Homo sapiens: one gene and its partners. The main gene of each other region encodes a partner of the protein of the gene in region 4 in a complex. Each region holds a gene or a part of one and is shown on either strand. Other genes may lie near its edges. The genes, in order: KANSL3, PHF20, KANSL1 and KANSL2.

Region 1 (7,458 bases), on a different chromosome or scaffold from region 4:
TTCTGGCCACACTGGCCTAAAAGAGTTCTTACAGCATGCCAAATTCTCACTTTCAGGGTCTATATTTGGAGACAGAGATTATAAAAGGAAACAATTTTCTAAGTACCAAAAGAACCAAGTCCACAGAATCTCACTTTAAGAAAATGTCATGAGATGTGGACACAGGAGTTTTAATGTCAGCAAGAAGCTAATATGCAGCAAAAAAGGAAAAGACTTCAACTACTATTTAAAGGAGCTTTTCAGTTATGCCCTAGGCCAGAGGCATCAAGATTATGCTAAATTATTGCCTAAAGTTACAGATTTTATCTCCTGTACACCAAAAAAGCCAACAAAATTATAAAGTCATTGGGAAATGAAATAAAAGACACTATTCTGCACATGTTTAAAACACACAGTGGGTCAGGAGCGGTGGCTCATGCCTGTAATCCCAGCATTTTGGGAGGCCGAGGCGGGTGGATTGCCTGAGGTCAGGAGTTCGAGACCAGCCTGGCTAACATGGTGGGTGGAAACCCTGTCTCTACTAAAAATACAAAAATTAGCCAGGCACAGTGGCACACGCCGGTAGTCCCAGCTACTCAGGAGGCTGAGGCAGGAGAATCGCTCAAACCCAGGAGGTGGAGGTTGCAGTGAGCCAAGATCACACCACTGCACTCCAGCCTGGGCGACAGAGCAAGACTCCATCTCAAAAAAAAAAAAAACCACACACACACATTGTGGTATCTCTAACTCATTAGGTCATTAAGTCTCAATTCCAGGAGGGGTGACTCTAAAGAAGCCTCTACAAGGGCTCTAACCCCCAACAAAATTAAAACCAGTGCTTAAGGAAAGATTAAACATTAGGTCAGATTAAAAACAAACAGACAAAACTCTTCTCCAAAAGTTTACAAAATTATTAAGGACATGATTTGATCACCATAACGGAATATATCAACACATCATGAAACATAATTAGAATGCCTTAAAGTGCAAAAGAACTGGCAAACAGGTTTATTTAGACCAAATGTAACTGTATCACTCATCAGGTAGTCAATTTATGAAACTTCCTTACCCTATAACATAGGCTGGGTGAAAATATCATTAGACATAAGAAGGGTTTAGATTAACCTATGGATAGCAGCTCTGTAACAAGGGAAGAGAAAAAGCAACGTCTTGGGAATTGGCTCCTAACCTTCGTGTGTGAAACCAAGAAAAGCAAAATGCATTACTATAAAAAGGCTATTGTTGCCACTGTCAAGCAACCCAGAGCACTGGACTAATGTGATAAAAGAGTCGTATCCTGTGGGTAATCTTTTAAAATCAACTTTTCAGTCTTTTTCTTCACCAGTTAAATAACCCTCTACGATTTTCCCCTTTCCACACGTCCTACTATCTAAGTGGAATAGGTTGTCTGCTTTTCATTTGCACGTCTTGCTTTCCTAACTCTTGTTAGCTGTCTCACAGAGATAGCCACATTCAAGCCTGCTATCCTTATGCTGCTTAAGAGATGCCTGAATTTAACATCCAAATGCCTCATACAATCTCCCCCAGTCAATCCTGAGAAAATCCTCTCTAAATTCCCATCTGATCACTGCCCAGTGAGGTTACCAGCAGCCCTTAGAAGCCCCAACTCACATGGTACTTTCGTGCTGCCGCCGGGGAGTGACAAAGAGCATGCGGGTGGGGCGGGCACTACTGGCATCTGGGTGGGCACTCCAAGGCTTGGCATAGCTATGATCCAGAAAAACCAGGTCCAGCTCCCGTTCATGCACTGAAAGCTGGAAGAGCAGCGAGGTGCCCATGCGTCGAGCTGAAGTCTGGAAGTCCCTCTCCCCACCCCGGTGGGCCATGTCAGTGGAGGGGCAGAAAGTCAGAGCATGGGTATCTGCATGCTAGTCACCTGCAGTGAAAAGTTTCAGTTTAGGTCAATTCCAATATCCTAAATTTCTCCCAATCTACACCATCTAACATGCTTACTTTTGTAACCTACTATCATTCCTATTGAGTATCCATTTCACGGCAGACCTCTGGTGGGGACGGTTCGTGGAATCCCACACCAACACCAAAAAAAAAGAAAAAAAAAACTATGGTGCCACGAGTTGTCCCATACTCAACCTCTAGCGAACTGAAATTACCTAACGGGAGAGCTCACCGACCCCAAGGTTCAGAAAGACCTCGCGTGGACAGACAGTAAACTTGCTTGGCCAGCACCACTTCCTAGGTGGGCAGGAAGGGTTTTGACAAACAGGAAATCACAAATATGAATTCGTTGAAAGCTAAGGATCTCTGTTGCTTCACACCATCCTCTAACGACAATGCGAAGGGAGCCGGGGCCGCAGCTAGAGCGTGGGCACCCCTAAAGGGCAGGGCAACGCCGGCCTCAAAAAAGCGAATCCCAGCTAGGGCTCCACTTCTTCAAGCCTCTCGTATTGTGCGAAACAAAAGTTCTGTTAAGTACTTCGTAATATTCCAGAGTTGTTTACATAAAAATGAAAACTGCCCCCCCAACAAAGCCTGTGACAAAATGATCCCCGTGGAAGCCCTTTCACCCTCACCCCCAGTGAGGCGTCCCTAGCAAACCGCCCAGGACCCCGGCTGCCCCGCAGGCGTTCCCGCCACTGAGCCTCCACACGGCCCATCTAGGAGACAGGGCTATGACTCGCATTTTACAGACGAAGTCGCCAGCTCGGGGAACTGAAGCGATTTGGCCAAGGTCATCCAGAGTTCGCGACGAGGAGGAGCCGCCTGGCCCCCGCCTCCCGCCTCCCGCTCCCTGGGGCAGGGCTCGGCGTCCGCGTCACGGAGGCCCAGACGCGGCCCCTGCCAGCCCGCCCCCGGCCCGACCCGCCCCGCCCGACCAGCACCGGCAGCCGGCCCTAGCCCGGGCCCCCGCATGCCCCGGGAGCCCTGAAGCCCTCGCCGAGACCCCCGGCCGTCCCAACCACGGCCGCGATCCCCACGGCCCGCCACTCCCCTCGAAGCCAACGCTGCTCTCACCCGCGGTCTTACGGCCGCGCGCTCGGCCACGGCCGGATCCCTAAGCGCGTGCGCGTTAACGCCTCCACGCCCCGGCGCTGCGGGCACCGAGTAAAACGCGGAAGCGGGTTACGGCCTGGGAAGGGAGAGGCGGTGAGCGGCAAAGCCCGGAACGGATGAAGCTCCGGCGCCTCTGTCCGGAAGAGGAGAGCCAAGAACACGCGAGCATGTCCGAAGCAGAAAGTCAACAACTAGGCTGGAGTTTCCCCCTCGCGCATATTCAGTAGGGAAAGCGAGGGCGGAGGACTAGGCTGGCTTCTACGGCCCCAGTTCTCGCCACCCCCACCGTGTTGGTCCTTTGTGCCCTCTGGGCGGTCGAGCACCCAACGGTCCACCTCCACCAGGGCAGCCACCTGAATTTACTCATTAAGAATTTACCTAATGTGGCTCACGCCTGTAATCCCAGCGCTTTGGGAGGCCTAGGCGGGAGGACCTCTTGAGCTCAGGAGTTTGAGATGAGCCTGGCCAATATGATGAGACCCCCGTATCTACAAAAAATTTTAGAAATTAGGTGTGTGTGATAGTGGTGTATGCCTGTAGTCCCAGCTACCCGGGAGGCTGAGGTGGGAGGATCACTTGAGTCTGGGAGGTCCAGGCTGCAATGAGCCATGGTTGCACCACTGCACTCCAGCCTGGACGACGGAGTGAGACTACGTCTCAAAAAAAAAAAAAAAGAATTTTGTTACTGACCCTAGATTGTTTTGTGTGGTTAACTTTCCTATGTGTTTTGTGTAGAGAGAGTAGATCCTCAAAATCAGGGACATTAACCTTTGTATCCTCCAGAGAACATACACCCAGAACATAGGTAATTGTTCAAATGTTGACTGATCAATAATTGGTTATTTGGTTGACTGACTGACAACATGACATCAAGAGACATGAGACAAGACAGCAAGAGACATGGTTCAAGATGATAAATCTCACCCGGGATCTGTGGCTCATGCCTATAATCCCAGTACTTTGGGAGGCCAAGGTGGGAAGATTGCTTGAGCCCAAGAGTTCAAGACTAGCCTGCACAAAACAGTGAGACTTCGTTTCTATTTAAAAAAAGAAATGGCCGGGTGCGGTGGCTCACGCCTGTAATCCCAGCACTTTGGGAGGCTGAGGAGGGTGGATCACGAGTTCAGGAGTACAAAACCAGCCTGGCCAACATAGCGAAATCCTGTCTCTACTAAAAATACAAAAATTAGCCAGGTGTGGTGGCGCATGCCTGTAATCCCGGCTACTCGGGAGGCTGAGGTGGGAGAATCTCTCAAACTCAGGAGGCAGAGGTTGCGGTGAGCCAAAATCGCGCCATTGCACTCCAGCCTGGGCGACACAGCAAGACTCTGTCTCAAAAAAAAAAAAAAGATAGGTACAGACATGCAAACACTCGAAACATTCAGAAAGCCACTCAAAGCTGTGTTCCACAAAGATGAGAGGGTAAACTGAGAAGACGGAAGGCATAGGATCGGGGAAGCAGGGTCTAACACAAGAAGCAGACGAGGAATTCTGAAGGTGATGGCAAAGAGTATCCCAGGACAATAGCTATGCTGCAGGACTGGGGACCACTAGTCTCAGCTGGGGGAGAAGAGAAGACCAGGAGGGAGAGCCCCGGGGAAAACAATAAAACTGGGAAAATGCCTCATAGATTTGAAAAAATCAAGGAATGCTATTTAAAAGTGCTGTTTAGAAATATGGAGCTTAAGGCCATAGAAATTATCACAAATAGAGCAGCCCCTGCCCCACCTCTCCCTACCCTTAACTTTGTCTCCTGGGCGCTTGTTTGGGGCCAGGGTTCTGCTATTTCTCTACTTATATTCCCATTCCCACTAAAAACAGATTTGTATCTTTTCTCTGCCCCTTCCTTTCCTCAGCACACCACGTTTATCATTTTGTTTCATTCTTTGCCAATTTAAGAGGTGATAAATGGTATCTTATCCCATTTATTTGCTTATTAATGAGTTTTTTGTTTTGTTTTGTTTTTGTTTTTTTGAGACAGAGTCTCTCTCTGTCGCCCAGGCTGGAGTGCAGTAGCGTGATCTCGGCTCACTGCAACCTCCACCTCCCTGGTTCAAGCGATTCTCCTGCCTCAGCCTCCCGAGTAGCTGAGACCACAGGCGTGTGCCACCATGCTCGGATAATTTTTTGTATTTTTAGTAGAGACGGGGTTTCACTGTGTTAGCCCGGATGGTCTCGATCTCCTGACCTCGTGATCCGCCCGCCTTGGCCTCCCAAAGTGCTGGGATTACAGGCGTGAGCCACCGTGCCCAGTGAGTTTGATTTTTTTTTTTTACATCTTTTTTGGCTTTTGAAACCAATTTGGCAAAGTCATAAATTGTATTTCATTGTATTTCTTTGATTATTAACAAGACTGAGGGTTTTTTAAAAAAAATTTTTTTTTGTCATTTTGGGCAATTATCTGATAGGAGCTTTGCCTTTGTTTTCCTTTGGGATAGTCATCCTTTTCTTATTAAGAGCTTGCTCTATAAACATTTATTAAATAAACTGTTGGACATTAAGTATATTGAAAATGTTTTCCCTGCTTTGATATTTGTCTTCTAGCTTTAAGGCATAATTTCTACATAGGAATTTTTTATTTAATACAGTCAAATCTGTCAGCTTTTCACTTACAGGGTCTTTTGTGTCACGCTTACTTTGAAAAGCCATTCACAAAGCGAAAAGCACTGTGTTGTGTTTAGATTTCAAGAAAAACTTCCAAGAAGCACTTTTTTTTTTAATCTGCTGCACTAGAAAGCAATCAGCACCCTGATCACTGACCCAGCGTTTCAGTCTTTGAATCCATTCATCTCTTAGACTGCGTGGTACGCTTACTGCTAAGTAGTTGTTTCATTAACTAATAGATTGTTCTTAAACATTGTTTTTTTTTTTTTTTTTTTTTTTTTTGAGACAGTCTTGCTCTGTGGCCAGGCTTGTGTGCAGTGGCGTGATCTCGGCTCACTGCAACCTCCGCCTCCCAGGTTCAAGCGATTCCCCTGCCTCAGCTCCGGAGTAGCTGGGACTACAGGCGCGCAATACCATGCCCGGCTAATTTTTTGTATTTTAGTAGGGACGGGGTTTCACCATGTTGGCCAAGATGATCTTGATCTCCTGATCTCGTGATCCGGCCGCCTTAACCTCCCAAAGATCTGGGATTACAGGCTACAGGCGTAAGCCACCACGCCCGGCCTTTTTTTTTTTTTTTTTGAGACAGAGTCTCGCTGTGTTGCCAAGGTTGGAGTGCAGTGGTGCAATCTTGGCTCACTGTGACCTCCACCTCCCAGGTTCAAGCGATTCCCCTGCCTCAGCCTCCCAAGTAGCTGGGATTGCTGGCACGTGCCACCACGCCCAGCTAATTTTTGTATTTTTAGTAGAGATGGGGTTTTGCTATGTTGGCCAGGCTGTTCCCGAACTTCTGGCCTCAAGTGATCCGTCCACCTTGGCCTCCCAAAGTGCTGGGATTACAGGCATGAGCCACCAATCCCAGCATTTAAATATTCATTAGTTTTCATTCTAACTATTGGATAAGATGTAATTTATACGATGTTCAACCCTAAAGCCTAAAAAGCCTTGCTGTGGACAATAAGAATAGGTGCCCCAGCTCCATCTTAATGCACAGAGGCTCAGACAGCCATAAAGACAGCCACTTCAAAACCGCATTGTCTTCTTTGACCTTCCATATGAGCTCATTAATTCAAAAGCTAATTTCCTTTTGTCAAAGAGGGTCTCGTATCTAAACTTAGGTTTTTCTTAGTAAAAAGGTTTCCACGTTAGGAAGAACTTTCCCTGAGACCTCACAGAAATAGTCCTTGATTTTCCTATCCCTTTTCTCAGGTCACTTCACTGTTTTCTTATTTTCTCATCTACATTGTGTGACTTTGGCAATGATTGGCTCCAGACAACTTGCTTGTACAAGGAGAAAACATCAACCTTATGTCTGACCTTGAAATCAAAAGGACGGCAAGGAGGGCAGGTGTGGGGTGGGCAAAAAAAAATTTTTTAAGGCCAGACTTGGTGGCTCACGCCTGTAATCCCAACACTTTGGGAGGCCGAGGTGGGCAGATCACCTGAGGTCGGGAGTTCGAGACCAGCCTGACCAACATGGAGAAACCCCATCTCTACTAAAAATACAAAATTAGCCGGGCGTGGTGGCGCATGCCTGTAATCTCAGCTACTCGGGAGGCTGAGGCAGGAGAATCGCTTGAACCAGGGAGGTGGAGGTTGCGGTGAGCTGAGATCGCACCATTGCACTCCAGCCTGGGCAATAAGAAAAGGGGGTGAAAGCAGCCAGGTGGTTTTGTTTCTACAGGCCCAGTCACCTATACCCTGTTCCTCCTCCCCCTTCTCTTTCCCATTAATTCCTCTCCAGAACCAAGAACCGCCCACCTTTGTGACAGCCTGTCTGTTGCTTAGCAACAGACAGGAAGTGGGGCTCCACTCACCCCAGGATCGCTGGGAAAAGTCTTG
Region 2 (7,022 bases), on a different chromosome or scaffold from region 4:
CGCCCGAGCTGGAGTGCAATAGCGCAATCTCGGCTCACTTCAACCTCCGCCTCCCAGGTTCCAGCACCTCTCCTGCTTCAGCCTCCCAAGTAGCTGAGATTACAGGCGTCCGCCACCACGCCCAGCTAATTTTTGTACTTTTAGTAGAGACGGGGTTTCACCCTGTTGGCCAGGCTGGTCTCGAACTCCTGACCTCAGGTGATCCACCTGCCTCGGCCTCCCAAAGTGCTGGGATTACAGACGTGAGCCACTGCACCCAGCTGATAGTGCACATATTTCTAAATGGTAACAGCAATGTTTGCAAATAACGGTTTCCAGTGCTCCAACATAGGGTTAATTCACCTTGACCCAGGAATTGGGAATGGAGCCCCTCAACATGGCTTTAAATTAGGGAAGCACAATGAGGTTATAAGAACTTGGGGAGTCTTCTCTGCTTCCCTAAGAACAAAAGTCACAATGAATGAAAGGAGATTACTTCCTTTACCAAAAATTTAAACAATAATCCCAATAATGGCCAGTTGGCAAAATTAGGGCAATTCAGTTTCTGCTTACATCGTTGAACAAGACATGAAATTGACTACCTTAAAAGTTACAGCTTCCACAGATGTGATTAAAACTCAAATGTATTTTCAGAAAAGAAAAATCAGTAATCTAATAATACAACAATCATCACGCCTCACAGGTGTGGCTACAGAAAGCCATCCTGTTTCTTCCCTTTTCAGACTGCATGACAGAACTCTTACAATGCAGCTGTCTGAACGTGCATGCCATGCACGCCTGTGCATTTCTTCCCACGCCAGAAACACCAACGTTAGCAGTGAGAAACAGCCTCTTGTAGAGGAATCGTCGTTTTGTTATAGATGTTATAGCCACGTGTATTCTCTCTGATGGACAGCTATAGCAGATCAGCTTATACTTGTCCTATAATTCATTATATATCAAATGGTGAGCAAATCACTAGACAGAACATTCCCTGAAATAGATTTTAGTACAGAGGCCTGAATTCATGTCCACAATGACCTGTGCTTAACTATTCCAAAGGTCGCTAAAGATACTGTTACTACTATTGAGATATTATTGGCTACTTCACGTTTACATAGTAAATGTTTGCAGCATATAACATTACAGACTCATAAACCCATAATTAACTTATAAGTGTTAATGGACAACTGTGCTTTGATTTTTGCCTTTAGTGATAAGAAAACAAAGTAGTGAAATGGGTCACTCCTCAAAGCATGGAACATTTTAACTTTGCCTAGTAAGGAAAAACAAAACAAAATATAGCAATTACATGTGGAACCGTAACCTGCAAAAGTAACACAAATATTGTCTCAAAAGGTACAAATAGGTTGTACCTGGACCTTAAGCAGCATGATCACCTTGCTCTCACAAAATAATACAAACAGGAAATGTAAAATGTTAAAGTATAGTAACAAAACAATTCTGAAAACGCTGACTACTAAACACCCTTCAGGAAGGAGAAAAGTCGCACATGTAGAATTTGAAGTTTGTTTACAACAATATAAAATAAGGTAATTCCCCAAACCACATTCTTTGTAACAAATCTTTACAGTGAAAGAGTTTGAAATTTTGGGAAACATTTTTGGACATTAAATAGAACGGGGAAGCTGTCAATATTAAGAAGTGGGTAGAAAATGCTGTCCTTTGGGTTCCAGACCCTGCCTGCTTCGGTTTGGAATTCCTCCTAGATTCTTATTACTGTGAGTGAGATTCTAGTTCTTCCATAGGCTGTATGGGCTCTGCTACAAAAGCCATAACCCAGCCAGCTCTGGGGTGAAGGCATACAAACTTGTCCCCAGTACCATGAAGTCATGCAAGAGATGTGGTGAGAAAAGTGAAGAGTCCTAAGGAGAAAGCAGGGCAGCCAAGACTCTGCTCTTTCCCAACCTCCACAGCATGGTGAGCTCACAATATTCCTATGAAGCTAGAAAAGGAAAATGATGCCTGCTGCCCAAACACCATGCCAGGAAGAAACCAGGGAGTTGGCATGTGCCCCAACGTGATAGAAAAGTCAATTAAATAAACTCCAAATTGAATTTACAACTGTCTCCAACTAAACTTTTTTGGCTCTCATTCCGTTTATCATCAGTGGCACAATTTCAAGTGAAGTTTGTGCAAAAAGACTCTCTTCATTCAACGATGTGCACAGAAGAGGGGAATCCCAAGAGTCTATTTGCTACCTTTATGGCAGGCTTCGAGATCAGAGTGTCCTCCCGCAGCCAAAATGGCCTCTTTGTCCAATGTCCACCACACTCCTGGCCCAGATCCCTGAAGTCAGTCGGTGTCACGTGCATTCAGCATGCTAGGTTTATTTATTTAAATATGCGAAGCTCCTCCTGCAGGTGCCCCAGGATTGTGCCCCCATGAGTTTTGGGTGCCCAGTTTCATGTTGAGCAGCAGAGGGCGATCTGCTGCACCTTGCCCAGGTCCATCAGCAGCTGCTTGATACAATGCTTGAGCTGCGGAAGCCTGGCCAGCGGCTCAGGGGGCTCCAGTTCCCCAGTGTAGTCCAGCCAGCTCTCCAACACTGTCGGCAGAAGAGAGAGATGAGACCTAGTGAACTCCCAACACTTGATTTGCAAGAACATCAGCAAGCATTTCAGCACCTTATTCCATCAGACATGGGGCAAGGGAGGAAGGGCCATTTCAGCCTCCATGGGGCAAGGGAGGAAGGGCCATTTCAGCCAGCACTGTGTCAACACCTGCTCTACAAAGTGGTACTCCCAGGACAAAACACAAATGCTTTAGAGCAGCACAGTCCAAAAGAACTTTCTGCGATGATCAATGGTCCAAGTCTGTGTCATCCAATACAGTAGCCACTAGCCTTATGCAGCTATTGAGCGCTGGAAACATGGCTAATGCAACTGAGGAACTGAATTTTAAATTTTATTCAGTTTTGGTTAAACAGCCACACATTGCCAGAGGCTACTGTTACCAGAGTCTAGAAGTCTTGGAAGGAAGCACCTTTCTGAGTGTTACCACTCACTCTTTAAAAAGCTTTCCCAGCCGGGCGCGGTGGCACATGCCTATAATCCCAGCACTTTGGGAGGTCGAGGCGGGCAGATCACAAGGTCAAGAGATCAAGACCATCCTGGCCAACATGGTGAAACCCCATCTCCACTAAAAATACAAAAATTAGCCAGGCATGGTGGTGCCCGTCTGTAGTCCCAGCTACTCAGGAAGCTGAGGCAGGAGAATTGCTTGAACCCGGGAGGCGGAGGTCGCAGTGAGCCGAGATCGTGCCACTGCACTCCAGCCTGGCGACAAAGCGAGACTCCATCTCAAAAAATAAAATAAATAAAATAATAAAATAAAATAAAATAAAATAAATAAAATAAAATAAAATAAAATAAAATAAAAAATAAAAAGCTTTCCCATGTTGAAAATCAGAGAGCCTGGTGTTTTAGCATCCTGTCAAGAAAAATGAAAATCTATAGGGTCTTGAAAAGGTCTATTTGTATATCATAAACTCTGATTTGCTTCATATTAATTCCTGATTGATACGCAATCATCAGTGGCACAGAATACTCTGTTATTATTTTCTCCCTTTATTTATTTACTTATTTATTTATTTTTTTGAGATGGAGTCTCACTGTGTCGCCCAGGCTGGAGTGCAGTGGCGCCATCTCAGCTCACTGTAATCTCTGCCTCCTAGGTTCAAGCGATTCTCCTGCCTCAGCCTCCAAAGTAGCTGGGATTACAGGCATGTGCCACCACGCCCGGCGAATTTTTGTATTTTGGTCTCAAACTCCTGACCTCAGGTGATCCACCCACCTCGGCCTCCCAAACTGCTAGGATTACAGGCATGAGCCACTGGGCCTGGCCTTTTTTTTTCTTTTGAGACAGAGTTTCGCTCTTGTTGCCTGGGCTGGAGTACAATGGCAATGATCTCGACTCACTGCAACCTCCGCCTCCCGGGTACAGGCGATTCTCCTGCCTCAGCCTCCTGAGGAGATGGTATTACAGGCACACACCACCACGCCTGGCTAATTTTTGTTATTTTTAGTAGAGATGGGGTTTCATCATGTTGGCCAGGCTGGCCTCGAACTCCTGACCTCAGGTGATCCACCTGCCTTGGCCACTTTGAAAGTGCTAGGATTACAGGCATGAACCACCATGCAGGACCCCTTTAAATATTTAATGTAAGATTTCAGGTATTAATTAACATTATCATCATTGGTTCAATATCTAGAAAGCTGTCTTGCTTGTGAGAACAAGTATTTCTCTACAGAAAGATGTTTGTTCTTCCCTAAGCTACCCCCTAAAGCTCTGGCATTTGGGGAGAGACCATCTGGGAACCCTGCACCTTTGACAAGAACCACCCCCTGCAGGTAGCCCCTGTGCTATCCCAGCCTGCCTGTAGCCTTTCTAGTCCATGCACCAACCTGTACTGAGCACCTTCTGGACCCTGGAGTGCAGCAAAAGAAAGGCCCACCCAGTACCTCTTCATCAAGCAGCCTGCAACCTACTGCGCAATCCTCTCCTGTCCTCAGATGCAGCCCTACCTTCCTCTCCACCTTTCTAAATCCTCTGTTTCTTGTGAGCTATTCTTTAGGGAAGCCTTCCCCAACCCTATACCCTGAATCTGGTCCTTGTGTTACAGGTGCTATGATATCACATGTTCTCCTTTGAGCATTTACTATGGTTTGTCATTACAGGTAATGGGATGATTTGTTTAATATATGTCTCTCCCACTAGATCAAGTTCCACGAGGGCAAAGGCTGAGTCTGCCTTGCTTGCCACTATATCCCTAACACTCACCTGTGTCTGAAATGTGGCAAGCCTGCAACAAACACAGCGAGAGAAGGAATGTGTGGTCCAGCAAAGCGCCCTACCCATTGCTCTGGGCCCTATGTAGTTTATCCTCCTCCATCATATTTCTTGTTGGTATTTGGGGGTTCCAAGAAGGAGGAACCCTCTCTCTTCCTAATTCCAGCAAGTACAAGGACTTGGAAATAAGAAAAATAAGACCACCTCCTCAGACTTAAGCTTGAAAACCATTAGTAAAAGATCAGTCATGTGAGAGGAACTAGTGGCCTGCTGAGCAAGAAAACTGGATAGTGACCAGTTTCAAAACACCAGTAAGTCTTTAAAAAAAACTAGAAGGAGACAGGGGACTGTTCAGCAAACAGGCAGAAGAATAAATGGAGAGGCCGGACGTGCACGCCTGTAATCCCAACACCTTGGGAGGTCAAGGGAGGTGGATCACCTGAGGTCAGAAATTCAAGACAAGCCTGGCCAACATGGTGAAACCCCATCTCTATTAAAAATACAAAATCAGCCAGGTGTGGTGGCAGGCATCTGCCTGCTACTTGGGAGGCTGAGGAAGGAAGAGTCGCTTAAACCTGGGAGGCAGAGGCTTCAGTAAGCCGAGATCATGCCACTGTACTCCAGCCTGGGCGAGAAAGAGCAAGACTCCGTCTTAAAAAAATAAAATAAAATAAAAATAAATAAATGGACAAAAGGCAGTCAGGACTGGATGGGTCACTCCAACAGCAAAGAGAGTCAGTCAATCTTTTGCAAGATGATCCTACAGTTGCTGAGAGGCCCCTCTTAAGGTCACCCTAACTACCTTGGATCTAGTTCCAGGCTCACCAAAGACATCCCGATACTACGGTGGCCCAGGAGGCATGCACAGTGTGAAAGCGCACCAACGCTCAGACTGGAAGAGTCTAAGCCACTCAGTAGTGCCTGAGCTTGGTTAACAGGAGTGTGTGGAGTTCCTGAGATGGAAGCTGTCTGTCTAGGTCTGTTAGGCTGAAGAACAAAGCCAGGACTGTGGGAAGTCAACAGCATCTCCTCTGGACCCCAGCATCCAGCAGGCCACCCTCTCCATACCATGTGCTGCACCATCCCAAGTGTCTCTTTTAAAGATGCAGAACAGCTTCCAACTAGCATAGTGGTTGCTAGCAAGACAGAAGGTTACAGAGGAAAAAATTCTGTTCAAATACACTAAGATCATGTGTATAGAGACCACTGCTCACCAAGGCAACATTTTTTATTTAAGAAAATAATCTCTCTAATGCCAAAAGACTTTTTTACTTTTCATGGTCATTAAATATCCTTTGTCTTTTAGTTTTAAAGTACTGTTCAGGCTGGGTGCAGTGGCTCACACCTGTAATCCCAGCACTTTGGGAGCCCGAGGCAGGCAGATCATGAGGTCAGGAGATCGAGACCAGCCTGGCCAACATAGTGAAACCCCGTCTCTATTAAAAATACAAAAATTAGCCAGGCATGGCGGTGTGCACCTATAATCCCAGCTACTCGGGAGGCTGAAGCAGGAGAATTGCTTGAAGCCAGGAGGTGGAGGTTGTGGTGAGCCGAGATCGTGCCACTGCACTCCAGCCTGGGCAACAGACCGAGACTCCGTCTCAAAAATAAATAAATAAATAAATAAATAAAGTACTATTCATATAACTACATAAATAATTAAATAATGGCCAATTGTAAAACAATGGCATATATATATATATATTTCATATAATAGCTTACTAGGCTTTTTTTTTTTTTTTTTTAAAGAAATGGGGTCTTGCTCTGTCACCCAGGCTGGAGTACAGTGACACGATCATAGCTCACTGTAACCTTGAACTCCTTGGCCTCCCAAAGCACTGGGATTACAAGTGTGAGCCACCACGCCAGGTCAGCTTTTAAATTTTTTTAAATTTTTTATTTTCAGACTGAGTCTCACTCTGTTGCCCAGTCTGGAGTGCAGTGATATGATCTCAGCTCACTGCAACCTCCGCCTCCTAGATTCTGCTGCTTCAGCCTCCCAAGTAGCTAGGATTATACGTGTGCACCACCACACCCAGCTAAGCAGGCCGGCTTTTTAAAAAAGGAATGTTACATCCAAATTCCTATTTTAAAACTTGGTTATGAAAGCTTAGTTTAGGGCTGGGTACGGTGGCTCACGTCTATAATCCCAGCACTTTGGGAGGCCAAGGTGGGCGGATCATGAGGTCAGGAGATCGAGACCATCCTGGCTAACACAGTGAAACCCTGTC
Region 3 (7,022 bases), on a different chromosome or scaffold from region 4:
ACATTCGTATTTGACTTTGGTGCTTTACCAACGTGAGATGTTAAATTTTTGTCTGATTTTCTTTCTTCCTGCCTACACATGTTATTTCTCTGGTTAAACCTGCAGAGCACTCTTTGTTACGTGAGTGTTTCCTGTTGAGGAAAATTCTGGAAGTTAGAAAATGAGTAGGCCTTAGTTCACTTGTGAACTCATATCAAGGTGAGAAGAAAGTGAAGTAACTATACTAAACTTTTTTCTTCACTGTCACTAAGGCTACTCTTCCATCTCTAGTAATGCTACATTGTAACCAGTGTCTCTGCGTCTTCTGTAGAGGATTGAGTTGACCACAGGTTTTAATTGCATTTTAAAGTGAATAAGAAGTTTTAGGTTTGTTCTGTTCGTTATGACCTGATTTGTGTACTCTGTAAACATAGGGGTGTTGTGGTTGTTTGAGAAGGTATTTTAGTATTGAGAGGTTCTGATTAGGCCCCTTTGCGAGTAAAGCTTAGTTACCTTGTTATATCAGGCAAGCAATTTTTTTTTTTTTTTTTTTTGAGGCAGGGTCTCGTTCTGTCGCCCATGCTGGAGTGCAGTGGTGCTATCTCAGCTCATTGCAGTCTCCGCCTCCCAGGTTCAAGCGATTCTCGTGCCTCAGCCGCCTGGGTAGCAGGGACTACAGGCATGTGCCATTGGGACTACAGGCGTGTGCCACCATGCCCAGCTAAGTTTTGTATTTTTAGTAGAGACGGGGGTTTCACCATGTTGGCCAGGCTGGTCTCGAACTCCTGACCTCAAGTGATCCACCTGCCTCGGCCTCCCAGAAGTGCCGGAATTACAGGCATGAACCACTACGCTTAGCCTAGACAAGCAATTTTTAAAATGTGCTATAAAACACCAAACTAATCCACACTGGATTTTCTAAACATAGTAAACGCCATGTTTAAAGAGTAATGCGTATTCCTTTTATGTTTTTTCAGCTTGTGGGGAGATGGGTAGGGGCTATTTTTTTCTTCTTGGTGAGTCCATTAAGACACAGAAATAAGCGACTTTCTTGCTAGATAGATGTATATAGTTTTATTGTCCCTCTCCACCCCCCAACAAAGGACCTCTCCGTTCCATTCCTTGAGTTTAGAGGGGAGGGACTAGGGTAAACTGAATAAGTGGTTGTCTGTTGATTGCCCCAGAGTAAATCTTATTGAGTGGTTTAGAGATTTTGTTTCTTTTTCATTTTAGAGACGAGGTCTCGGGGTCTCGCTGTGATTCCCAGGTTGGCGTGCACAGATGTAATCATTGTGCGCTACAGTTTAGAGTGCCTGAACTCCGGGGCTCAAGTGATCTTCCTGCCTTAGCCTCCTGAGTAGGTTGAGCAACGGGAGCATATAACCTTGCTTGTCTTTTTTTTTTTTTTTTTTTTTTTTTTTTTTTTTTTGAGACAATCTTTGCTCTGTTGCCCAGGCTGGAGTGCAGTGGCGCGATCTTGGCTCACTGCAACCTCCACCCCTAGGGTTCTAGCGATTCTCCTACCTCAGCCTCCTGCGTAGCTGGCATTACAGGTGCCCACCACCACGCCTGGCTAATTTTTTTCTATTTTTAGTATAGATGGGGTTTTGCCATGTTGGCCAGGCTGGTGTTGAACTCCGGACCTCAGGTGATCCACCCACCTCAGCCTCCCAAAGTGCTAGGATTATAAGCGTGAGCCACCGGGCCTGGCCCCTTGCTTGTCTTATTTAGAGTTTTAAAGCAGCTTTCGTTGTACTCTTTCTTCATTTTAAATGTTCCTGCCTTGAGTGATTTGATTAGTCTATGTCTTGGGAAGCGTATTTTACCTTAGTGCCTCTTTACTTACTTACCTTAAGAAAGGAGTACAGGGCAGGTTCTTAAGTAAAATGGCCCCAGACACCTGGCTTGCCTACTGTGTCAGTGCAAAGAACACTTGGATCATGTCTTTTTCCTAAAATTGGACTTCATAACTGTTTCTTGGAAGTCTGTTTTAAGACTTTTTTAGTTCTCATGTTGCTTCTGAAGATGTATGTTTAAATTACAGTTTCTATGCTGATAAGTTGCGTATATACCTCTGGGCATACTAAAAGTTGTGCAGAACAATAGTTTATATGACAAGATAAGTTTCCCTCATCAGTACTTCCCATTCCCTGAAATGTGAGATCAAAACTCAGTTGAACCACACTATGGCTGTAGAAGACAGTATGAATTAGAAAAGACAAATATCCACTGTACTAGAGTTCACCAGCGTTTGAAGGCTATCAGAAGATATAGGAGGTAAGTGATATCCTTGGGTGTCACTTGCAGATTGAGGGGAGGATTGTGGGTCATAGGAGATGACTAGTATGGCAGGGGGTAACTATTATTATTTGTTTCTTTTTTAAGCCATGTGCCTTTTAGGATGTAGAACAAAATACATAGGAGAAAATAAGCCAAAAGGTGTGATTTACCAAAATACTTGGACTCCAAAAAGAGCTGCAATATATATTTTTTTTTATTAAGCATTTTCTTGTCTTTGGTAGAATAAAGGTAAAGCTAAAATAGAGTGCGGAAACTGACTTGACCAAAGTAGAAAACACAGCTCATGTTTATGAATCAAAAACAAATGAGTTTGGGCAGTCTGAAAGAAAAAAATCAAACATTTTATATGAAGATTTTAAACCTTTATGCAAAGAGTCCCTTTAAGGTGGAAGAGACCTTTTAAATAGAGTAGACCTTCCCCATTTAGTAGCACAATGCGGCAAAATAGTTGTTTAATAAATGTTACTTTCTGCAAGCCTTGCTTTTCCAAGATTTTAAGCTGCTTCCACAGTGTTAACATTTGAAAGCCCTCTACCAGGAAATTATTTAGCTGTGTATTTTATTGTTGCTGACTGTGAACTTACCCTTTTTTTTCCTGGCTGTAATTTTTTTAGAATTAAAGTTTCTTTCCAAGATTTTGAGGGTCAGGAAATGCAAAGTGGAGGTAGATTGAGTGCAGTTTTATCTAAATGTTATTTTAAAAACTCTGGTTCTTGTAACCTGAACCAGGAATCCAAAATGAGATCTTACTCTGAATTTTAATTACAGCAGATTCTGCTCTTATTTGGAAAAAGTTGCTTGAGTGACATCAAACTTAATGGAGTCCCTCACCTTTTAATTCCTTTTTAAAAAGGGGAGAGCTTAAGGTTAGACTTGGTTAAATTCAGTTGGAAGGTAAGTATTAGGGAATAAAAAAGAGGAATAACAATTTTGTTGTTAGGATGTTAAACCAAAAATTGCTAAGAACTCATATCTAGACTTTCCTCTTGCTGCTTGTTATTTGGCCTTTGTGACTGTTTGTTAGCACCTCCACCAGAGGGTGTGAAGGGAAAGAGGCTCAAAGCTAAGTACTGTAGCTAGTTTCTGGTTTCTAGTATAGGAGAGACACTTCATAGAAATACCAGCCTGGGCTGGGTGTGGTGGCTCATGCCTGTAATCCCAGCACCTTGGGAGGCCGAGGCGGATCACCTGAGGTCAGGAGTTTGAGACCAGCCTGGCTTAACATGGTGAAACCCTGTCTCTACTAAAAAAAAAAACAGCAAAAATTAGCTGGACATGGTGGCGCATGCCTGTAGTCCCAGCTACTCAAGAGGCTGAGGCAGGAGAATTGCTTGAACCTGGAGGCGGAGGTTGTAGTGAGCCGAGATCGCACCACTGCACTCCAGCCTGGGCGACAGAGAGAGACTTCGTCTCAAAAAAAAGAAAAAAGAAATACCAGTCTGATAAGTTGAACTGTCAGGAAAGTTTCATTAAACTCTCCATATGTTACCATGGAGAACTGAAGCTCTTTGAAGACCTTAAGCATGTCTCCAAAAAATTGGACTGTATTTTTTTGCACTTAGTGATTTACTCCTTACCCCTTGCCTCCCAAGAGAATGAAAAATGGATATTAGTATTGACTTAACATTTTATTGGCATTGGAAAAATGTACTTTTAAAAGTCATTAATTGACTTTTCTCTAAAGGTATAAGGTAGGTTTCAGTGGGAACTCAGGAATTTGGCCATGGACCCTCCCAGAATAACCTGTTTCCTTTAGAATTCTTTTTTTTTTTTTTTGAGACACAGTCTCGCTCTGTGCCCCAGGCTGGAGGTGCAGTGGCGGGATCTCAGCTCACTGCAAGCTCTGCCTCCTGGGTTCATGCCATTCTCCTGCCTCAGCCTCCCGAGTAGCTGGAACTACAGGTGCCCGCCATCATGCTCAGCTAATTTTTTTTTTTTTTTGCATTTTAGTAGAGACGGGGTTTCACTGTGTTAGCCAGGATGGTCTCGATCTCCTGACCTTGTGATCCACCCGTCTCGGCCTCCCAAAGTGCTGGTATTACAGGCATGAGCCACCGCGCCCGGCCTCCTTTAGAATTCTTAAAATCTTCCAGAAGTCGCTGATTTTAGGATTGTTCAGGAGCACTTACACCAACCATTAGGGCTTGTTGGAAAGAGATATGATAAAAAGTATGATTTTTTTTTCCTCTGTCTTTTGTCAGCTAAAGAGTGGTAGGAAATTTGAATTCAGTGCTAGCATAGAAGTAGGATTAACACCATTAATAGTTTGATATATAGACATCCTTCAGAAAAAAAAGTTTTCTTGAGATGGTATCTTGCTATGTTGTCTAGGCTGGTCTTGAATTCCTGGGCTCAAGCAGTCCTCCCACCTTGACTTCTAGAGTAGCTGGTATTACAGGCATGAGCCATGGGGCCTAGCCTATCCGTGTGTGTGTGTGTGTGTGTGTGTGTGTGTGTGTGTGTGTGTATATATGTGTGTGTATATATATGTGTATATATATATGTTTAATGGGATCATACTTGTTATATGGCTTGATCTTTTTAATTAGGGTTTTTTTTTTGTATTCCAGTTCTTCAGTGAAAGCATTGTGTATACATCTTTGAGTACCTATGAGAATATTTCTGTTGAATAGATTTCTAGAAGTGCAGTTGCTGGGTAAAAGTTTGAGCAATTACATTTGTGATTTTGATGGCTATTACCTTTATAATGCTGTGTAACCACATTTAATAATAGCTTAAAAAGTGTAGTTAAAAAGTTTCCTAGTCTGGGTACAGGTGCTTGGTCAAGTAAATAACTGGAACTTGTAGTGGGTGAAGCCTATCCTAGGTTCAGTTGATGCCTCTTCTTGTTAGGTGGTTGATCACTTCAGACATCCCCATTAACGTCCTAATGGATCTTCATCTGATGGGTTTAGCATAGAATGCTCAGGTTGCTTAACGTGTGTTGGTCTGCTGTCTGCCAGGCATTGTGCTGCTTGTAGGGGACAGAGATAAAACAAGCTATAACCCTCCTTTTTTAAGAAGTACATAGTTGGCCAGGCGTGGCGGCTCATGCCTGTAATCTCAGCACTTTGGGAGGCCGAGGCTGGCGAATCACGAGGTCAGGCCAGGCCAACATGGTGGAACCCTGTCTCTACTAAAAAAGACAAAAAATTAGCTAGATGTGGTGGCGGGTGCCTGTAATCCCAGCTACTCAGGAGGCTGAGGCAGGAGAAACGCTTGAACTCAGGAGGTGGAGGTTGCAGTGAGCCAATATTGTGCCGCTGCACTCCAGCCCGGGTGACAATGAGAGGCTCTGTTTCAAAAAAAAAAAAAAAAAAAAGTACATACTCTGGGGAAGAAAGAGACAAGACAAAATTGTGAGTTTATATTGTACCATGAGCAATAGCCAGGGTGTCATGGGGGTGCAGGTAAGAGCCTAGAGGGAGGGACCCCACCTCAACCTGGGAGTAATGGGGAATACTTGAAAGAGCATGTAACCTTGAGCTGAACCGTGAAAGAGTAGCATGAGTAAAGGTGCAGGGGCATAGAAGAGCCAGGAAACATATGTTTCAGGTGGCTGCAGTGAGGACAGGCTGGAGATGAGGTCTAATGTAAAAAGGGGACAGATAATGGTGTGTGGGGAATTTGGACTCATCCTTACTCTAGAGTCAGTGAAAGATTTTAAATGGTTAGATTTAGGTTTACCCCCTCCTTTCCTTTTTTCTTCCCTTTCTAATAATCATTTTGGTAGTGGACGCTAGATTAGAGGCTTGCTGAGACAGGAAGAAGGAAGAATAGTTGGGAGATTATTACTGCCTGAATTACTATAGTACATAATGAGGTTCTGCACTAGGGCATTGGCACCAAGGATGGAATGAATGTGCCTGTCATTCTGTGTGTTGCCAACCCTCACCCTCTGTGCACCACCTCACCTTTCAAAATTCAGTCAGTATGTCATCTTTTCTAGAAGCCTTCCTTGACCCCTTCAGGTGAAATACAGTACTTTATCAAGCTAGGCTACCTTCACACCTAATTTATATTTTACTATCTTGTATCTGGCATTTAGTAGATGTTTAAATTAAATATTTATGGTAAAAAGTAAGTTGGTGATTTGAGGTCATGATTAACTCAAATAGACAATGTTGAGGAGCAGGAGGAAGTTTTGGATTTGGTGTTGGGGCAGGGAATGGGTTTTGAATATGGGATGCTTGAAGTAGTTGTATAGGCAATGCTGAATTCTACTCATTTCTTTCTTTTTGTTTTTTTGGAGACAGTCTCATTCTGTCGCCTACGCTGGAGTGCAGTGGTGCCATCTCAGCTCACTGCAGCCGCTGCCTCCCAGATTCAGGTGATTCTTGTACCTCAGCCTTCTGAATAGCTGGGATTACAGGCAAAGACGGGGTTTCGCTGTGTTGGCCAGGCTGGTCTCAAACTCCTGACCTCAAGTGATCTTCCTGCCTTGGCCTCCCAAAGTGCTGGAATTACAGGCGTGAGCCACCTCTCCCGGCCCTACTCCTTCCCTTCCTTCCCTCCCTCCTTCCTTCTTTCCCTCCTTTTCTTCTCTCACCTCCTCTCCCCTCTCCCCTGTCTCCTCTCTCCTCTCTCCTCTCTCCTCCCCTCTCCTCTTTTCCTTCTTTTGAGACAGAATCTTGCTCTGTAACCCAGGCTGGAGTGCAGTGGCGTGATAACAGCTCACTGCGACCTCCACCCGCCAGGCTCAAGTGACCCTCCCACTATGCCCAGCTAATTATTATTTTTTT
Region 4 (7,721 bases):
CAAACCTTGAAATTTTAAAAACAAAACAAAAAAAAAAACACTTAGTACAAAGGTACTGGCAAATAAAAACGCTTTAAGAAAATACAACCCAAGTAAGATTACTTACAACATAAATGAGTAAACCATGCCCTCTCAAACAGAAAAATCAACTTAAAATTACTGTTTCCTGAAATTACCTAACAAAGCTGCTGAGCATTAAAAAAGCAATGAAAGAAATGGTCACCAACTCAGGAAAGTAAACCTAGGCAAACACAACTTCAAATTCAAAAGAACTGGTAAACAACAAAGCAATCCCAGCATTCTCACCAAATTCCTGATGAATTAACAATATTGCCAAATAGATCAAGGCATTGTGCTAACCCAAAATAGTTCCCCCTTAACTTTCTTCCTCCTTTTTCATTCCAGGAGAGAAGGTCCTTACCTAGTATTCGGCTGGCTTCACTGCGACTACTTTCTGGAGTCTGAGACCCCAGCTCTGTCTTAGCATATGAGCTCAGCTGGCACAGGAGTGTTTCACCCACAGGCCCTGGGTTGGTCTTCTTCATTTGAGCATGAAGTGCCAGGGCATTCCTACGGACATGTTCAGCACAGAAGGACACCCTGAAGAGACAAAACATTAATATTTTATAAGTTCCTTCTTGAAAGCGTTCAATAATGTTCACAGTCCCTAATCTTTAAATCATTTTTAGGGAATTAAAATGACTATTACATTCATTTCTAAAAATGCAAGTCAGAGGAATTTAACTGGCCCAAGGTCAACTCATTTGACTTTATTAAAGGGAAATAACAGGACGGATGAAGTGGTTCACCCTTGTAATCCCAGCACTTTGGGAGGCTGAGGCAAGGGATTGGGTCTTGCTCTGTTGCCCAGGCTAAAGTGCAGTGGTGCAATCATAGTTCACTGTAGCCTTAAACTGCTTGGTTCAAGCGATCCTCCTGCCTCAGCCTCAAAGTAGCTAGAACTATAGGCATGCACCACTGTGCCCAGCAAATTTTTTTTAGTTTTTTGTAGAAACGAAGTCTATGTTGCCAAGTCTGGTCTGGAACTCCCAGGCTCAAGTGATCCTCCCACCTCAGCCTCCCAAGTAGTGGGGACTACATGTCCACGCCACTATGCCCAGCGAGTTTTTTAATCTTCTGTAGAGACGGGGTCTCACTGTATTGCCTGGGTTGGTCTCCAACTCCTGGCCTCAAGTGATCCTCCTCCCGTGGCCTCCCAAAGTGCTGGGATTACAGGCATGAGCCACTGCGACCAGCCAGGGACACAATTTTAAAACTATAAGATACGTAAAAAATTATCTAGTCAGGTTATGTTTTTGCATGGATACCTTTGCATACATGATGAAAACTATGAAGCCTCTTACAGAAGAATACACACATATATAACTTTGCATGTTATTTAACAAAATTCATGGACAGCCAAATAGAGCCACACACCCCTCCATTAAGAAGAATTTTAGGGGCCAGGTGCGGTGGCTCACTCCTGTAATCCCAACACTCTGGGAGGCCGAGGCGGATGGATCACCTGAGGTCAGCAGTTCAAAACAAGCCTGGCCAACATGGTGAAACCCCGTCTCTACTAAAAAGTACAAAAATTAGCCGGGCATAGTGGCGCACGCCTTAAGTCCCAACTACTTAGGAGGCAGGAGAATCGCTTGAACCTGGAAGGAGGAGGTTGCAGTGAGCCGAGATCTCCACTGCACTCCAGCCTGGGGAATAAAGCAAGAATCTGTGCGCCGCCCCCCCGCCAAAAAATTAACTTTAGGGCCGGGCGCGGTCGCTCACGCCTGTAATCCCAGCACTCTGGGAGGCCGAGATGGGAGGATACCTTGAGGCCAGGAGTTTGAGACCGGCCTGGTCAAAATAGCAAGACCCCATCTCTCTTAAAAAAAAAAAAAAAAAAAAAAAGACTAATTTAGAATATGCCTTTATTTTACAGATAAGGGAAAAGAACCAAAGAGGTGAACTAAGTAATCCAACTCAAGGGTCTTTCCAGTCTTCACCGTTTTTTCAGTTTTCCAAGGATACAACCATAACCCCAAATTTACAAGGACAAAATCTCAAACGCGGCAGCTATGCTGAAGCCCGCATCATATCACATACCCCCTCGCTTTAAGAAAAACGACATATATATCTATACATATATACCCATCTTTCTTCTCTGGCTTTGGGGCAGCATTGGGACATCTTTTTCCATTCTTCGTCGATATATAACTACACTGCTTGAAGGGTGCATTCTTGTCTTCAAGGATATGCTTAATGCAAAACTCCTGCCCCTCCAGACGAGGGTGAGAGCATGGACGATGAGTGAATGCACAAGACAGAGGTTCCTGAGACCTGGGCACTGGAGTGATCCTCCCCCGATTGGTTGGCAAGACGTGAATCCGAATCCTGTTCATAACCAAAACCTGCGGGGTCAAACGAAAGACCAAAAAGCCCTTACCCTTCCCGAAAATTCCTGCTCCACACAGATCGCGCGGACAGTTTCCAAAGGACATGCAGAAGTCGTCCCCGTAAGGTACGCTCCGTAAGTCCCCGCCGCCCTCCCCAAGTCTCCACAGGCATCTGTGGCTTTGCCTCCCTTTAGCGTGTCCCTCCATGCCCGGCCCCACCCCGAACCACACCACGCTGAATGTATCTTCAGGACTCGCACAGCTGCAGCACGAAGGGAAGCGACAACACCAGCCCCACGCGGCGGCCACGCCGCCTCCCCGCACGCCGCCTTTGTCCCGGCCTGCCTCAGAGCGCACGACTGGGCCTGGCCTCGGAAGCCTATGCGAGCGCCATTTTGTCCTACGGCTCCAGTCACCGGAGATCCTGGCTCCTGGAAGCCTGCAGGAAGGAGACTGACTCTGACACTGCTTTGAGGCGGAGTAGCAGCTCTGAGCTGACAAAAAGAGCGAAATAGCAGCCCAACCGCAAGAGCTTAGAGGAAAGAGCACCGCCATCTTACCTCAGGAGCTGCGCTGCGCCGCACTCTGCCGCGCCGCTCGCCCTTCTCTAGTGGCGCCAGCGGCTCTCAGATCGGCCTCGCCCCTTTCCGGACTCCTGGCTACTCATTGGCTACCGCTCGTATGACAGGATGTCGCCATTGGCCGAGACCAACTACCTATCGTGTCTGGGAGGGCGGAGCGCTGAGAAAATGCGAGGTTGGGGTGGCTAAGACAGACTGTCTGTCAGCAACTCCGCCCGGAGGAGAGTGAGCCGGGGAAGGGGGCGGAGAGCGGGCTGCGGGGCGGGTTGCCAGCTAATATTTTTCCACCTTGCAGCGTGGCTCGTTTTCCGGCTACTTTTGGACCCTCAGTCTGTGGTCCTAGGCTGCTGTTCCCTCACCACTGTACACAGCTAGTATAAAATCAGACAGACAGGCCGGGCGCGGTGGCTCACGCCTGTAATCCCAACACTTTGGGAGGCTGAGGCTGGCAGATCACCTGAGGTCGGGAGCTCGAGTCCAGCCTGAGCAACATGGAGAAACGCCGTCTCTACTAAAAATACAAAATTAGCCGGGCGTGGTGGTGCACGCCTGTAATTCCAGCTACTCGGGAGGCTGAGACAGGAGAATCTCTTGAACCTGGGAGGCGGAGATTGCGGTGAGCCGATATCGCGCCATTGCACTCCAGCCTGGGCAACAAGAGCGAAACTCCGTCTCAAAAAAATATATAAATAAAAAATAAATCAGACAGAGGCTGGAGGATCACTGTTTACACATAAAAAGTCTTTAGCTTTCTTTTGTGAACAGTTCAATACATGTACTGAACATTTGGTATAGAGAACACTGAGAAACATTTTTTGGGTGTTTACTGATTCTGGGAATTACATGTATAAAGTCATTGAATTTTTCAAAGCAACCCTAAGAGGTACAGGTTAGTATTATGTCCATTTTACAGATAAGAGGACTGAGGAACAGAATGGGACCATAGCTATTAAATGGGAAAGGAAGACGAATTTGAACCCAGCCCGCATTCTTTATCCCTTATTGCCTCTTATATAGTAAAGAGCATTGGACTGAGAATAAGGAAATATTTGTTCTAGTTTAGGGCTGCTTCTCATAACTGTGTGCCCTGTCTTTAAAATTCCATGCTAAATAATGCAGGTATCATAAAAATGACAGACACAATACCAATCATACCATCCTTTAAGGATTTTTAGTTTAAAAGCATCTTTCTGTCATCTCCACCACTTGTAGAAATGATTCCTAGCTTTCTTCCCATAACCCTTCTAGACATTTTTTGCTTTCCAGCATCTCTTATCTCCTCACTGTCAGTTTAAGAAAGATGTTTTATCCATGCCTAACGAGCAAGTGAGCATGAGTCCCAGTGGAAGTGAACATAAAGATTCCACAGCCCTCAAGAAAAACACTAAGGCTGGGCGTCATGGTTCACCACTGTAATCCCAGCACTTTGAAAAGCTGAGGTGGGAAGATCACCTGAGCTCAGGAGTTCGATCCCAGCCTGGGCAATATGGAGACACCTCATCTCAAATAAATAAATAAATAAATAAATAAATAAATAAATAAATACACTATAGGACCGATAAATTATTAAAAAAAAAAAAAAACCTTGGGGGTTGTGCTGTTTCCAGAGACTAGAGCAGCCCTAGAAGAAGGCCTGAAATTCATTCATTCAACGAATATTTATTGAGCACCTAAGTGCCAGGAGAGAACAAGGAAGATAACCCTGCTCTCTTGGAGTGAACATTCTAGGATAGCTTTGGATTATGGATGCAATACAAACATAATATTAATAACAATGATTTATATACATAAGCAAACAGACCAACCCTCAGGAGTACGAAAAAAGATGTTTTGTTATAAACACCCTATAATTAAAAAACAGCCAGAGGCAGTCATGTCACAGAAAATTTGGGAATCCGAATCTGCAACCAAATGTAGTAATATCAAAAAGCAACATTAAAACTACTGTAGTGAACAATATGAAGAGACACAGGAATAGATGGGGAAGAAACAAAAGACTTTCTTTCAATGAATTTACTGAAGGTCTTAGTTGAAAAAAGAATCCTTCTTGTAAGTCCAAGACAGACAAAACATTACTATTTAGAACCACTTCTTTTTTTTTTTTTTTTTTTTAGCGGGAGTCTTGCTCTGTCGCCCCGGCTGGCTGGAGTGCAGTGGCGCGCGATCTCGGCTCACTGCAACCTCCGCCTCCTGGGTTCAAGGGATTCTTCTTCCTCAGCCTACCCCCCAAGTAACTGGGACAACAGGTGTGCGCCACCATGCTCGGCTAATTTTTTTATATTCTTAATAGAGACAGGGTTTCACCATATTGACCAGGCTGGTCTCCAACTCCTGACCTCGTGATCTGCCCACCTCAGGCTCCCAAAGTGCTGGGATTACAGGCGTGAGCCACCATGCCCGGCCTAGAACCACTTCTAAGTGAAAGGAGGGAGCAGATATTAAGAGCTCAAGATGTCAGCAAATTCTTTGTTCTGTTTAACAAAGTAGATGGCTTTTTTTTTTTTTTTGAGATGGAGTCTTGCTCTGTTGCCCAGGCTGGAGGTAGATGGTTATTTTTAATTCACTGAACACTTTGTAGCTATTGAAGAGGTTAAAGTAGACCAGAAGCTATTTGTAAATAGGGATTAGGAAACTAGAGTTTGGGGGGCTAATCCTAGAGAAAAGTGAGAAAAAAGATGAAAACGGCTGGGCGCAGTGGCTCACGCCTATAACCACAGCACTTTGAGAGGCCGAGGCGGGTGGATCACCTGAGGCGAGGAGTTCAAGACCAGCTTGGCCAACATGGTAAAACCCCATCTCTACTAAAAGTACAAAAACTAGCCAGGTGTGGTGGCATGTGCCTTAATCCCAGCTACTTGGGAGGCTGAGCAGGAGAATCATTTGAACCCAGGAGGCAGAGGGTGCAGTGAGCCAAGATTGTGCCACTGTACTCCAGCCTGGGTGACAGAGCAAGACTGTCTCCAAAAAAAAAAAAAAAAAGTTATCAAAGACCTTCACCTTGCTAATTCTAATGAAGTTTTCAGGCATCATCTTATTAGACCACTTTGCAATGTCTAACACACTTGGCCACTCCTCCTCCTTAGAACTCTATACTCTTTCTAGATCTCCATACTCTTCCTAGTTTCCCATCTACATCAGTCACCCACTCTCTGTCTCGTTTCTCTTTTCCCCAATTCTAAACACTGAACATTTCTATTTTCTACTACTACTTCCTTAGTTATCTCACTCTGTTTCATCCCATTCATAAGCTGTTATCTCCCAAATGCATATATCCAGCCTGGATCCCTCCTTTGAACTTGACTCTCTAGTCATCTGTCCAGTAGGCATCTCCACTTGGATGTCTAATTGGCATTTCAAATTTAATGTTAAAGCCAACCTCCCGCTACTCCCGTAGTCATCTCTACCTGAGTATATGACAACCCCAACCTTCCAGTTGGTCAGGACAAACACTGGGAGTTATCCTTCACTTCCTTCTCTTCCACCTCATAGCAAATCCTATTAGCTCCATCTTCAAGCTGTATCACTTCTCGGCTGAGCAAGGTGGTTCACACCTGTAATCCCAGCACTTTGGGAGGCTGAGGCGGGTGGATCACCTGAGGTCAGGAGCTCAAGATCAGCCTGGCCAACATGGTGAAACCCTGTGTCTACTAAAAATACAAAATTAGCCGGGTGTGGTGGCACATGCCTGTAATCCCAGCTACTTGGGAGGCTGAGGCAGGAGAATCGCTTGAACCTGAGAGGCGGAGGTTGCAGTGAGCTGAGATCACGCCATTCCATTCCAGCCTGGGCAACAAGAGCAAAACTCCATCTCAAAGAAAAAAAAAAAAGATACATCACTTCTCATTACCTTGGGTACTTCCAACCTGTCCAAGCCACCCTCATCTCTTACCTAAATTGTGAGAGCTCCTTGCCCTTGACTCCTATGATCTATTTTCAACACAGCAGCCCAAATGAACATTTTAAAACCTAAGTTGGATGTCATTTCCCTTCTCAAAACTTTCCAATAGCGTCTGTTCCATTCACTGTCTTTATACAAGGTCCTGTTGTATCTGGCTTTCTATTGCCTCTCTAACCTCATATCCTGCTACTCTCCTCTCTCCAATACCCCCTCCCCACTCATTCCTATACCAGCTACACTGGTTTCCTTGCTATTTCTCAAACATACCAGCATATTCTCACCTCAGAACCTTTGATGTCTCACGTTTCCTGGAATGATCTTATCCTAGTTATTCCCATGACTTGCTGTCACCTCCTTCAGGTCTTCCCTAAAGGTCATGAAGCTTCTGGTCATGAAGCCTTCCCTAGCCACCTTTTTTCCAATTCCCACAGCCCTAGTTACCTAAACACACACACGTGCTCACACACACACATGCACACACACATCCCTATCCCCTATTCCCTGTTTTAGTCTCCAAAGTGCTTATTATGGCCAGGTGTGGTGGCTCACACCTATAATCCCAACAAGAGTGAAGGAGGCCCAGACGGGCAGATCGCTTAAGCCCAGGAGTTCAAGACCAGACTGGGCAACATAGGGTGACCCCATCTCTAAAAAAATTAGCCAGGCGTGGTGGTGCACACCTGTAGTCCCAGTTACTCAGGAGATGGGAGGATCACTTGAGCCTAGGGAGGTCAAGGATGCAGTGAGCTGTTATCTCACCACTGCACTCTGGCCTGGGAGACAGTGAGACTTCGTCTCAAAAAAAAAAATTTTTTTTAAGTGCTTATCACCACCTAACATACTATGTTT

Evidence for each region.
Region 1: KANSL2 (region 4) and KANSL3 share a complex: the UniProt entries of both Homo sapiens proteins name them as parts of the NSL complex.
Region 2: KANSL2 (region 4) and PHF20 share a complex: the UniProt entries of both Homo sapiens proteins name them as parts of the NSL complex.
Region 3: KANSL2 (region 4) and KANSL1 share a complex: the UniProt entries of both Homo sapiens proteins name them as parts of the NSL complex.

The regions. Positions count from the first base shown.
Region 1 is NC_000002.12:96,635,310-96,642,767, forward strand, and holds the start of KANSL3 (KAT8 regulatory NSL complex subunit 3), read right to left. Parts: upstream 3,004-7,458; 5' UTR 2,974-3,003; exon of another isoform or gene 2,951-2,973; intron 2,683-2,950; exon of another isoform or gene 2,532-2,682; intron 2,040-2,531; exon of another isoform or gene 1,877-2,039; 5' UTR 1,827-1,876; coding exon 1,612-1,826; intron 1-1,611. UniProt on the Homo sapiens protein: Non-catalytic component of the NSL histone acetyltransferase complex, a multiprotein complex that mediates histone H4 acetylation at 'Lys-5'- and 'Lys-8' (H4K5ac and H4K8ac) at transcription start sites and promotes transcription initiation.
Region 2 is NC_000020.11:35,943,011-35,950,032, reverse strand, and holds part of PHF20 (PHD finger protein 20), read right to left. Parts: intron 2,549-7,022; coding exon 2,406-2,548; 3' UTR 1-2,405. UniProt on the Homo sapiens protein: Methyllysine-binding protein, component of the MOF histone acetyltransferase protein complex.
Region 3 is NC_000017.11:46,183,418-46,190,439, reverse strand, and holds part of KANSL1 (KAT8 regulatory NSL complex subunit 1), read left to right. Parts: intron 1-7,022. UniProt on the Homo sapiens protein: Non-catalytic component of the NSL histone acetyltransferase complex, a multiprotein complex that mediates histone H4 acetylation at 'Lys-5'- and 'Lys-8' (H4K5ac and H4K8ac) at transcription start sites and promotes transcription initiation.
Region 4 is NC_000012.12:48,679,234-48,686,954, forward strand, and holds the start of KANSL2 (KAT8 regulatory NSL complex subunit 2), read right to left. Parts: upstream 3,006-7,721; 5' UTR 2,954-3,005; intron 2,409-2,953; 5' UTR 2,400-2,408; coding exon 2,149-2,399; intron 601-2,148; coding exon 422-600; intron 1-421. UniProt on the Homo sapiens protein: Non-catalytic component of the NSL histone acetyltransferase complex, a multiprotein complex that mediates histone H4 acetylation at 'Lys-5'- and 'Lys-8' (H4K5ac and H4K8ac) at transcription start sites and promotes transcription initiation.